2 separate regions of the Homo sapiens genome follow, and region 2 is linked to region 1. The links come from fine-mapping of genetic effects on gene expression. A gene starts in region 1. The other region holds a variant in brackets. All regions are shown on one strand. Distances are from middle to middle.

Region 1 (5,369 bases):
CATTTTCTTATCCACAAAGTACTCCTCACTTTTCAATTTGTCATGTTACTAAATGGTGTTACATTAAAGCCCTGTGTTAAGTGTCTGCTTTTGACTGAATTTCTTCATAGTAACCTTCAGTGTGTGTGTGTGACTATGTTCAATTAGTGGGTTGATCTTCGTATAATTGGCCACTATGTGAGAGTTCACTACTAGGCAGAAACTATTATGGACAGTGAAATAATGACTTTTATCTCACCACGTGAGTTTGATGCAGTCTTTTCTGTCTAGCCCTTGCCTCTTCCTGCCCATGTGATTGCGGTGCAGTAGTTTCTGTTGTATAATAGTGTGGACAGCAGCTCAGAAAAGGAGGGAATGCTACTGATAATTTGTAGATAATATTCTTTAAGACTTAGGGGAACCATTGAACTTTGAAATTTTTATTAGAAAATTATTTGTTCAGAATCAGACTCCATTATTTTACATATACTTAAATACTTTAGGGGTATTTTTGAAAGTTAGCCCAGTTTTTTATGTGCTATTAAATTTTTAGATTACATACTAAAGAAAAGTATGTACACAGAATGTAGTGCTCCTAGTTACTATTTTTTCTATTAAGAAATAGTTTAGTTCTGGTGTAAAATTTGTTTGAATGCTAAAAAAAAAAAAGCAGGACTGCATTATGGCACTTTTGCCTTGGTGGCCCACTTTCTCCATTTAAAACATTAGGATTTGTATTTTTCTGCTGCGTTTGTATGAAGACATATTTGATTGTTGTTTTCTCTTGATTTTAAAATAAAACCTCATGAGCCCTAGTAAAAAGCTAGAGTAACGAATGTTTGAACTACTGATGGTGTATCTCAATGTGCAGCCTCCTGCCACCTCCTGCTTAACCTTTTAGCAATTAGAGTGCCCATATCTAGAGTTCCTGATATCCTTTGGCATCACACTATCTAGTTTTAGTACTAACACTGTTTGATTGCTCCAGTCCCTCTACTCCCCTTTGCCTATTAGTTTTAATAATGGGGCATAATTTGTCTTGGTTTGGTTTTGTTGAGTAACTCAGTTTTACCTAAAGGACTGTTTTTGGTCCGGCGCGGCGGCTCACGCCTGTAATCGCGGTACTTTGGCAGGCCGAGGTGGGCGGATCACCTGAGGTCAGGAGTGGGAGACCAGCCTGACCGACATGGAGACACCCCGTCTCTACTAAAAATACAAAATTAGCCGCGCGTGGTGGCGCATGCCTGTAATCCCAGCTACTGGAGAGGCTGAGGCAGGAGAATCGCTTGAGCCTGGAAGGCGGTGGTTGTGGTGAAACGTCGTCCTTTGCATTTCCAGTTCCCTCTAATGGAGCTGCACTCTTGCATGCTTTTGCTCACATCTTCTGGACTTTTTTTTTAAGTAGTGAGTAATACTGCACTTTTGAAACTTGCTCGGGCTTTTACAAATAGGTGGAAACTACCAGTGATTCGGAATGTTGCAAGAGGAAACTACCAGCTCACTAGACGATTCTGACCAATTATGGGGCTGGATACAAGGAATAAGGTCAAAGTAAAACGGCTGACATTAAAATAGCGTGGCTACTTAGAGTTTATCAAAGTCGAAATTTAAAAAATAATTTAAAAAAAAGGTCTCTGTACTGCCAGGCGGGCGACAGGGACTGGCCAGCTGCGCCGCACTCGCCTGCCAGATTCCCCTTTTCTCGGGGTAGCCGGAAGGGCCTGCCTTCAGCGGGTGCTGTGCAGGAAACCAATAGCCGCCTCTTGGACGGGCTCCTGTCAGTCACGCTTAGCTCCGCCCCCAGGATTAAGGCCCGCCCAGGGGCTTCCCTCCGCCCTTCGCTTGAGAATTCCTTTTAAATACCGCTCTGGCGCCCGAGCGCGCCTCTTGCGTGCTCGTCCCCACGCCCTCGGGCGGCCGGTTCTTCCTTCTCTGATTGGCCAGGGCCCCTGCTCATCAGTCGTGATGCACAAGGTCTCTTACCGAGGCCCCGCCTTCTTCCGAGAGGCCCGAAAACAATTTTAAGATGGCGGCCGCGGCGGTAGCGCGGAAAACAATGGGGCCGGGGCGGTGGGGAGAGGCCGAGGCTTGAGGTAGGCAGCAAGCGCCGGCTGGGGGTCGGGCCGAGCGGGGCAGGAGGAAAACCCGCCGCCGCGCGCGAGCCCGCTCCGCTGCCCTCGGGGGCATGGCGCGGCCGTGAGGCGGAGAGGGGTAGCCGCGGGGAGCGAAGCCCGCAGTGCCAGCCGGCCCCGAGAGGCCCGGCCCCGGGCCCGGCCCGTGCAGCCCGCGGCCCATGGTGCTGCCCACCTGCCCCATGGCGGAGTTCGCGCTGCCGCGGCACAGCGCGGTCATGGAGCGCCTTCGCCGGCGCATCGAGCTGTGCCGGCGCCACCACAGCACCTGCGAGGCCCGCTACGAGGCCGTGTCGCCCGAGCGCCTGGAGCTGGAGCGCCAACACACCTTCGCCCTGCACCAGCGCTGCATCCAGGCCAAGGCCAAGCGCGCCGGGAAGCACAGGCAGCCGCCCGCCGCCACGGCCCCGGCGCCCGCCGCCCCGGCCCCGCGCCTGGACGCCGCTGACGGCCCCGAGCACGGCCGCCCGGCCACGGTGAGTAGGGCGCGGGAAGGCGCTTGTCGTGGCGGCAGCCCCCTCTCCCGAAAACGCTTCCTCTGACGCGGATCGGGCCGCTGGGAGACTTCCCCAGGCGTCCGCGACTCCTGGATCTGGCTGGAGAGAGGGTAACATGGCAGGGAGCTGAGAGGTTGTCATCTTTGGGAAGTGGCACGGTGGCGTTACTTTGGGAAAACAGCGCCTTGAGGGCCTTGCAGGAGGCCCGACCTGGGAAGGCTGGCGAACGCTAACCGGAGGGTTTTTCTTCCAGACTTGATTCCGGGATGTTGAGATCTTTATTCGAAATAGACTAGCATTCGAGTCGCCTGTGATGGAGGGAGTTCCTGCACCGTAGGCCTGGCCTCATTTATTCTGCAAATGTTTATTGGGTCCTTGCCCTTTACAAGATCCTGTGCTGTGAGCAGGATCAGGGCTTTCATGTGGAAATAAGTCGGCCTTTGGTTGACCAACTGAAACTCCTCTGAATGGAAAATCAAGAAATTTTTGGAAAACTTAGTAAAATGTTCAATGAGTTGCATATAAGTATTCCTTGTTTAGGTAGCCTGAACTTTGTGAACTTGAGATTCCTGCAATATTGTTGACAATTCTAGTTTTAATTTATCAGGCCTGTTTAAAATCTCTGATGATGTTAGATTGTTGGTCAATTATTACTCCCTTTGGGCTCTCAGTAAATGTTCCTGAAATTTGTTGGTTAGAGGTTTTTCTTCCTGAAACAGATTTACAAAAGAGACAAGGTTTTTCAGTGGTTTTCTTGGGGATTTTAGTTTAAAACCAATGTTAAAATCTAATTTGTTATGTGTATTTTTAAATTCATACCTTTATTATCTCTCACCTGGGCTATTGCAGTGCCTGTCCCTAGCTAACTAACCAGTCTGTAGGCATTTAGTTTCTTTCTCCCTTATTCTCGAAATGCTGGAAATCCTTCTCTTGCTTGAAAGGATGAAGTTCAAAGTCTTTAGTTTGGCATTTGGGACCAGTCTGACCTAACCTATCTTTTAATGTCCCTCACAGGTCCTCTGCTCTGGTTGAATTATTTTTCTCATTCTCTTCCACACTAGCCTCGATTGCTGGGTTAGAAGAAAAAAAACCACTCAGATTTCATTGCTTATTGTATCAACTGGTCAAGCCTTCTCATCTTCACTTTTCTCATCTGTAAACTAGGGGCATGTTGGGCTTATTATCGCCCCGTGTTCTTTCCCTGCCCTCCCCTCACTCTGTCGCCCAGGCTGGAGTGCAGAGGCACAGTCATGTCTCACTGCAGCCTCAACCTTCCTGGCTCAAGACTCCTCAATCCTCCCGCCTCAGCCTCCTCAGTCCTCCCGCCTCAGCCTCCTGAGTAACTGGGATCAACCACAGCTGCACATCACCATGCCTGGCTAAATAAAAAAAGTTTTTTTTCTGTTAGAGATGGGGTCTCACTATATTGCCTAGGCTGGTCTTGAACTCCTGGGCTCAAGTGATCCTTTCTTCCAACTTGATCTCTGAAAGTGCTGAGATTATAGGCATGAGCCACCGCACCGTGCCGCCCCCAGGATTCTTTTAAGAATAAAAAGAAATGAGTGTGGACATGAAAATACAGTATTTCGGGGGAAGGGATAGCATTGGGAGATATACCTAATGCTAGATGACGAGTTAGTGGGTGCAGCGCACCAGCATGGCACATGTATACGTATGTAACTAACCTGCACATTGTACACATGTACCCTAAAACTTAAAGTATGATAATAATAAATAAATAAATAAAATACAGTATTTCATAAATTTAAAGGCCGCCTGTGGGACCCTCCTCCATCCCTTTCAGAATCCTGCCACCCTGCCAGTCCCAGCTTATCTCTTTCTTCTGCCTTAAAGCTAGTTCCTGACCAGCCTAACCCACAGCAGTAAGAATCTCCTTTGTCAAAACATTTAGGAAACATATTATCTATGCTATTTGTTTTATTTATTTATTTATTTTGAGATGGAGTCTTGCCCTGTTGCCCAGGCTGGAGTGCAATGGCGCGATCTAGGGTCACAGCAATCTCCGCCTCCCAGGTTCAAGTGATTCTCCTGCCTCAGCCTCCCTACTAGCTGGGATTACAGGTGCTGGCCACCATGCCCAGCTAATAATTTTTGTATTTTTAGTAGAGATGGGGTTTCACCATGTTGACCAGGCTGGTCTCGAACTCCTGACCTCAGATAATCCACCCACCTCGGCCTCCCAAAGTGCTGGGATTACAGGTGTGAGCCACTGCACCTAGCCTATTTATTTTTTTTTGAGACAGCGTCTCGCCCTGTCACCCAGGCTGGAGTGTAGTGACATGATTTCTGCTCACTGCAACCTCTGCCTCCCCGGTTCAAGCGATTCTCCTGCCTCAGCTTCCTGAGTAGCTGGGATTACAGGCGCACACTACCACGCTTGGCTTATTTTGGTATTTTTAGTAGAGACAGGGTTTCTCCTTGTTGGGCAGGCTGGTCTCGAACCCCTGACCTCGTGATCCACCCACCTCGGCCTCCCAAAGTGCTGGGATTACAGGCGTGAGCCACCGCGCCCGGCCTATGCTATTTATTTTTAGCACATGGTCACTTGTTACTTTAGGTCGCATCTTTTCAACTAGACTGTCAGCTCTTGGAGGCAGGGAGGGCTCACACTTGGGTAGTACACATCTGAGGTGCATCTTAAGTGCCTGTTTGTTGAATTATTGATAGAAACTTGGTAGTGCTTTACTCAGTAATCTCTCCTCCTATACACTAACTTCAAAAAGCAAGTTGATGTAACTTC
Region 2 (5,369 bases), 40 kb after region 1:
TGACGAGCAGGGACAGGGGAGGCCGCTGCCTGGTGCTGGTTGAATCCCTGCTGTCTGCCCAGCTCTATGCCTTGACTTCATCAGGCTGCATGCATTGTCATCATATACACCTCAGTTTGCCTAAGGGGCCTGGTTTTCTAGTTACTCCACGGCATCAGGAGAAGAGGGCACAGAGGCAAACCACTAGAACTACCTTTGCTGGGTCCCTGGCTGTACAGTTTTCTGAAGCAAAATCATTTCTAGTTGGAGGACATCTTATCAGCAGGAAATAGCTTCTGTAATTCTCAAGAAAGTTCTTTGCTTCTGCTTTTATGTGTCTTCAAAAAATGACTCCTATCTTCCAGATAAGGACTTAATGCACTTGCGTGGCCTTTGGCTTCTTTCTCTCCTCCTGTCTGCTCACTTGAATATCACAGATGGCAGCATCACTAGTGGACAGTTGGCCAGAAAAGGGCAGGAAGCACACTTGAGTCTAGCTGTCGCCTCTGAGATGTGCCAGGGAACTTCATAGGCCATCCCTCCAGAAATGCACAAAGATTTCAGGGAATGGATACAGGAAGCTCTGGTCTGCCCGCCTTCCTAGCTCCTCTCAGAATGTCTTAGAAACCTCTGTTTTTCCTTATTTGGGACCTTGCTATAAAGGGTCCCAGAGAGACTGACCACAGCTGTGTGTCCTGGAGGAGACCAGGTACGGTTTTATGTATGTGCTACCTGGGGTCAACGTGGGGTTGAAATCTGCAGGCATTTCAGAAGCATGGGTCTGACCCATGTTTTCTGCCTTCAGACCCATCTGACATTTTGTGGATTATTGATGGGAATGAAATAGCCGGTTTCAGCTCTCCTCTTTTCCTCAACCCAATTTCATTGTTGTTGTTTTGAAACAGAGTCTTGGTCTGTCGCCCAGGCTGCAGTGCAGTGGCACGATCTTGGCTCACTACAACCTCCACCTCCTAGGTTCAAGCGATTCTCCTGCCTCAGCCTCCCAAGCAGCTGGGATTACAGGCGCCTGCCACCACGCCCGGCTCATTTTTGTATTTTTAGTAGAGATGGGCTTTCACCATGTTAGCCAGGCTGATCTCACATACCTGACCTCGTGATCTGCCCGCCTTGGCCTCCCAAAGTGCTAGGATTACAGGTGTGAGCTACCGTGCCCGGCCCCAATTTTTATTATATGGTTGCTAGTAGAGAGGAAGAAGAACAAAGCACTGAGTTACGGCCAATCCCTGAACAATGACTCTCCTACCCACAAAACCTAATTCAGTTAATGGTGTTGTCATATGTCCATTGCTTAAGCCAGGAGGCCTAGACAGCAGTTCCCTGAGCATAGGGGTGCTTTCTCTTCCACCCTCTGCTGTCTCTCCAGCACAGCACCTGCCACAGAGTGGGTACTCAGTGAAGATCTGGTAATTTCCTGCGACTCCTCCCTCCTTTGGCCACCTTGTCATTTCATAGTATAAATGGTGTGCCATAAGATGGTATATTGTCTGGTGAGATGTTGTCACACAGTTCTGCACCTCCACCCCCCATTCCCACATGGTCTGCCCTCCCTCATCTCCGTGACTGAACAGCCTCTCCCCAGCATGGTCTCAGCCACACTCTCAGTCCAGCCACTCTTGGGCTTTACAACCCTGTTCTTTGTTTGTTTGTTTGAGACAGAGTCTTGCTCTTTCGCCTAGGCTGGAGTGCAGTGGCATGATCTCGGCTCACTGCAGCCTCCGCCTCCCGGATTCAAGCAATTCTCCTGCCTCAGCCTCCCGAGTAGCTGGGGGCGCGCGCCGCCACGCCTGGCTAATTTTTGTATTTTTAGTAGAGACAGGGTTTCACTATGTTGGCCAGGATGGTCTTGATCTCCTGACCTCGTGATTCGCCCGCCTCGGTCTCCCAAAGTGCTGGGATTACAGGCGTGAACCACCGCGCCCGGCCACAACCCCGTTCTTCACACGCCATCCACAGCTCTTCCCTATCTGGCCGGAACTAGCTCTTCCATTTTATCTCTAACCAGCTGGCCACTGTCTGCATATCCCGGCCACGGCCAGTCTCTGAAAGTTCCCCACACAGATGCCTTTTTCTGACTCTGCCTTTGCACACACTTGCCTGGAATGCTCTTTTTCCCCAAACTGTTAAATTGCTAAACTTCTGTGCTTTTAAACCTAGTGGATTCATCACTGTCTCTCTCAAGCCTTGCCCAAGGCTTCCCAGATGCCAGGGCTTCCAGCCTGCACCCTGCAGCCTGCTGGCCAGGCGCGCCCCATCGCGCCCCATTGCGCCCCATCGTGCCATGTGCTAACTTTGCCTCCCAGAGGCGGATCTTGCGTTGGGTCCACCTCAGAGTCCCCGGTGCCCACCACAGGGTCCCCACAGAGCAGAAATTTGGTGGGTGCTTGAAAGTTAGATGAAGTAGGTCACTGGTTTTCTCTCCCCTGGGGCTTTGCCCTTCCTCTGTGCCTTTCTGAACCCCATCATTGTTTCAGAGACCAGGCCTCCATTCCACCTGTGGAAGGCTTTCTGCCCCATGGCCCCCGGGGCCCTCTTCCCAGTGTGCCGTGAACGTGAGACTTCTGGTGCTGCGGCTCGAGTCTCAGAGGGACCCAGTGGTGGTCGACTCCTGACTGCCAGACTCTTCTCTGTCTTGTAGGGTCCTCTGCTGC[C/G]GTGCCCGGCATGAACACCTTGGGTCCATCCAACTCCAGCTGTCCTCGAGTGTTCCCTCAGGCTGGGAATCTGATGCCAATGGGCCCTGGACATGCTTCAGTTTCCTCTCTCCCCACAAACTCAGGCCAACAGGACCGGGGTGTGGCTCAGTTCCCTGGCTCCCAAAACATGCCTCAGAGCAGCCTCTATGGCATGGCTTCTGGCATAACCCAGATAGTTGCCCAGCCCCCGCCACAGGCCACCAATGGACATGCCCACATTCCACGGCAGACCAACGTGGGCCAGAACACCTCCGTCTCAGCTGCCTATGGGCAGAACTCTCTGGGAAGCTCTGGCCTCTCCCAGCAGCACAATAAGGGGACCCTGAACCCTGGTTTAACAAAGCCACCGGTCCCAAGGGTGTCACCAGCCATGGGAGGCCAGAATTCCTCCTGGCAGCATCAGGGAATGCCGAACCTCAGTGGCCAGACCCCAGGGAACAGCAACGTGAGTCCCTTCACTGCAGCCTCCAGTTTCCACATGCAGCAGCAGGCCCACCTGAAAATGTCTAGCCCGCAATTCTCCCAGGCAGTGCCCAACAGGCCCATGGCTCCCATGAGCTCAGCAGCTGCCGTGGGGTCCTTGCTACCCCCAGTGAGTGCACAGCAGAGGACCAGCGCCCCTGCCCCAGCACCACCCCCAACAGCCCCTCAGCAGGGCTTGCCTGGCCTGAGCCCAGCAGGGCCTGAGCTGGGGGCCTTCAGCCAGAGCCCTGCCTCACAGATGGGCGGTCGGGCGGGGCTGCACTGCACCCAGGCCTACCCTGTGCGGACCGCGGGCCAGGAGCTGCCTTTTGCCTATAGCGGGCAGCCAGGTGGCAGTGGGCTCTCTAGTGTGGCTGGACACACCGATCTGATCGACTCCCTGCTGAAGAACAGGACTTCAGAGGAGTGGATGAGTGATTTGGACGACCTGTTAGGGTCTCAGTAATGGAAGGATTTGTAGTGTTTTTAGTGTTCATTCATCCTATATTTTTATTCTCAGATTCAAAGAAAGAGCAACTACTTTGGACCAAAAGCCCATGGCCTGGGGAGCTGGGCAGGTAGAGCCCAAGCTCCAGGTGAGGCCTGGCCCTGGGCAGGGTCTGTGGCTGCGCCCCTCAGGCCAGCAGTTGAGGTCCATCGGGCTGGCCCCAGCCCATCTGCTGGCATCAGTACCTGGTGTTGGGACAGCAGGATAGGGTTCTAAAGGTGGTTTTCTATCCAAACGACCAAAAAACCAACAGTAACACCAGTGAAACCCCACACTGTCGGGCTTATAAAAATCTGTGCCATCATGGTGATTTTATCCAAGACTGCTCCACTTACCCCAGTGCTGGGGACAAGTTTCTGTTGAAACTTTAGATAGCAGAATTATTTGCAATTTGTAGCATAGAAAAGATTTTTAAATTTTTTTACAAAAGGTTTTTAAACAGATTAGGGTAGGTGATGGTTTAAATCAATTAAGTGGCATTGGAAACCTAGGGTTTCCTTTTGATTAAGAGCCTTTTTTGTTTCTGCTCTTTGTCAGCTTTCAGGGGAGAAGGAGGCCACTGGAAAATTATTTCCCTAAGTGCAGGCTGTTGACTGCGTATGCCAAAAAGGGACAGGAGGCATGGGATAGCAGGTCTGGTGACACAGCTAGGGTCTTCCTAGCAGCTCCTCCTCCTCCCTCCCAAGGCCCCCAGGAATCCCTTCCTCCCATGTCCTGGCAGCAGGACCCCAGGCTACATATGGAAGGTAGAGATGTGGGGGTCCTGTATCCTGGAGTATTATGTCTCCCCACCTTCTGCAGTTTTCTCTGAACATGTATGTTGCCCATGGTGGGAGCGTGGTCACTGTGCAGTTGTGCACAGATGTCTTTCCTTTACCGTTGGCCTTTCTGTCTGCCTCTCCTTCCTCTCTGCAGCCCAAATGGAAAACAATTATTTACTCCATTGGAGGGAAAGGAAGAGTCTTAGAATTCCTAAGGGAACCTTAGCATAAAGGTTTTGGGGAAGGAGGCCGTAGGCCGGCCCGGAGGAAGCAATTCCACTTGGTTTGACAACTTCTGCCACTCCCATGTCAGATGACTTGCACTTCTTAAAGAGATTGCTTTATAACACTAAGACATCCTTTCTAAAGATTCAAGTGGACTTGACTAAGCTGAGGGTCCACGAAATAGAATATGACATGTGAGCTGTTTTTGGAAAACGAAGATGGAGAGAGCACTTCCCCGTAACGAAAGCAAAGTGGTAAGCACAGGGTGAGACCCTTTTACACAGAATGGTGGAGAGAAAAGAGAATGCTGAAAAGTGGCTCAGATGCAGAGTGTTCTGTGGAGAAACTGCAGCCCCACTTCTGTTTCCCTGGAGTCTCCCAATGGATCATTCAGGAGTGTCCTATGTGAGAATTGAGCCAAGGAAAATACTCATGCAACCAGCCTGAGTCGCGGTGAGGGGACGAGAGGTTGTACACACATTGGTAGTTATTTTGCACCAGCAGTGCCTTTCTCACTGGGGGTACTTGGACCCTCAGATCTTCTTTTCTAATAGCCATTTGCCACCCCAAGTGGTATGTCGGCCATTTCTCCTTAAAACACCTTCCCTACCTTTCCCATGTACTCAGTTTAGCTCTCAAAGAAGGGGTGAATCATAAAGCCAGTGAAAATTTCACCCTCTGAGGGAGTTCCCCAATCTGAAGGGGAAGAGGGTGACCTCAGCG

Direction of the effects. Alleles are on the strand shown, and positions count from the first base shown. SD is a standard deviation of normalised expression in the study named.
In carriers of allele G in region 2, the expression in whole blood of the gene that starts at base 1,982 in region 1 tends to be lower than with C alone (small effect, 0.32 SD a copy in GTEx).

Evidence for each region. PIP is the estimated chance that this variant, and not a neighbour inherited with it, causes the effect.
Region 2: its variant is fine-mapped to the expression of MAML1 in whole blood (TOPMed, PIP above 0.99). The same link has a PIP of 0.9 or more in breast, cerebellar hemisphere, cerebellum, gastroesophageal junction, lung and pancreas.

The regions. Positions count from the first base shown.
Region 1 is chr5:179,730,841-179,736,209 of GRCh38, forward strand. MAML1 (mastermind like transcriptional coactivator 1) reads left to right here and starts at 1,982. Exons shown (of 5, transcript NM_014757.5): 1 at 1,982-2,587. The coding sequence starts at 2,273. CANX (calnexin) reads left to right here. Exons shown (of 15, transcript NM_001746.4): 15 at 1-801. RefSeq lists enhancers at 1,525-1,624, 2,386-2,886 and silencers at 2,075-2,274, 2,515-2,574.
Region 2 is chr5:179,771,260-179,776,628 of GRCh38, forward strand. It overlaps MAML1 (mastermind like transcriptional coactivator 1), which reads left to right. Exons shown (of 5, transcript NM_014757.5): 5 at 2,636-5,369. The coding sequence ends at 3,618. Among named protein-coding and RNA genes, the nearest start is that of LTC4S, 20 kb to the right of the region's middle. RefSeq lists a silencer at 1,896-2,096. The variant C/G (reference allele first, on the strand shown) is at 2,649.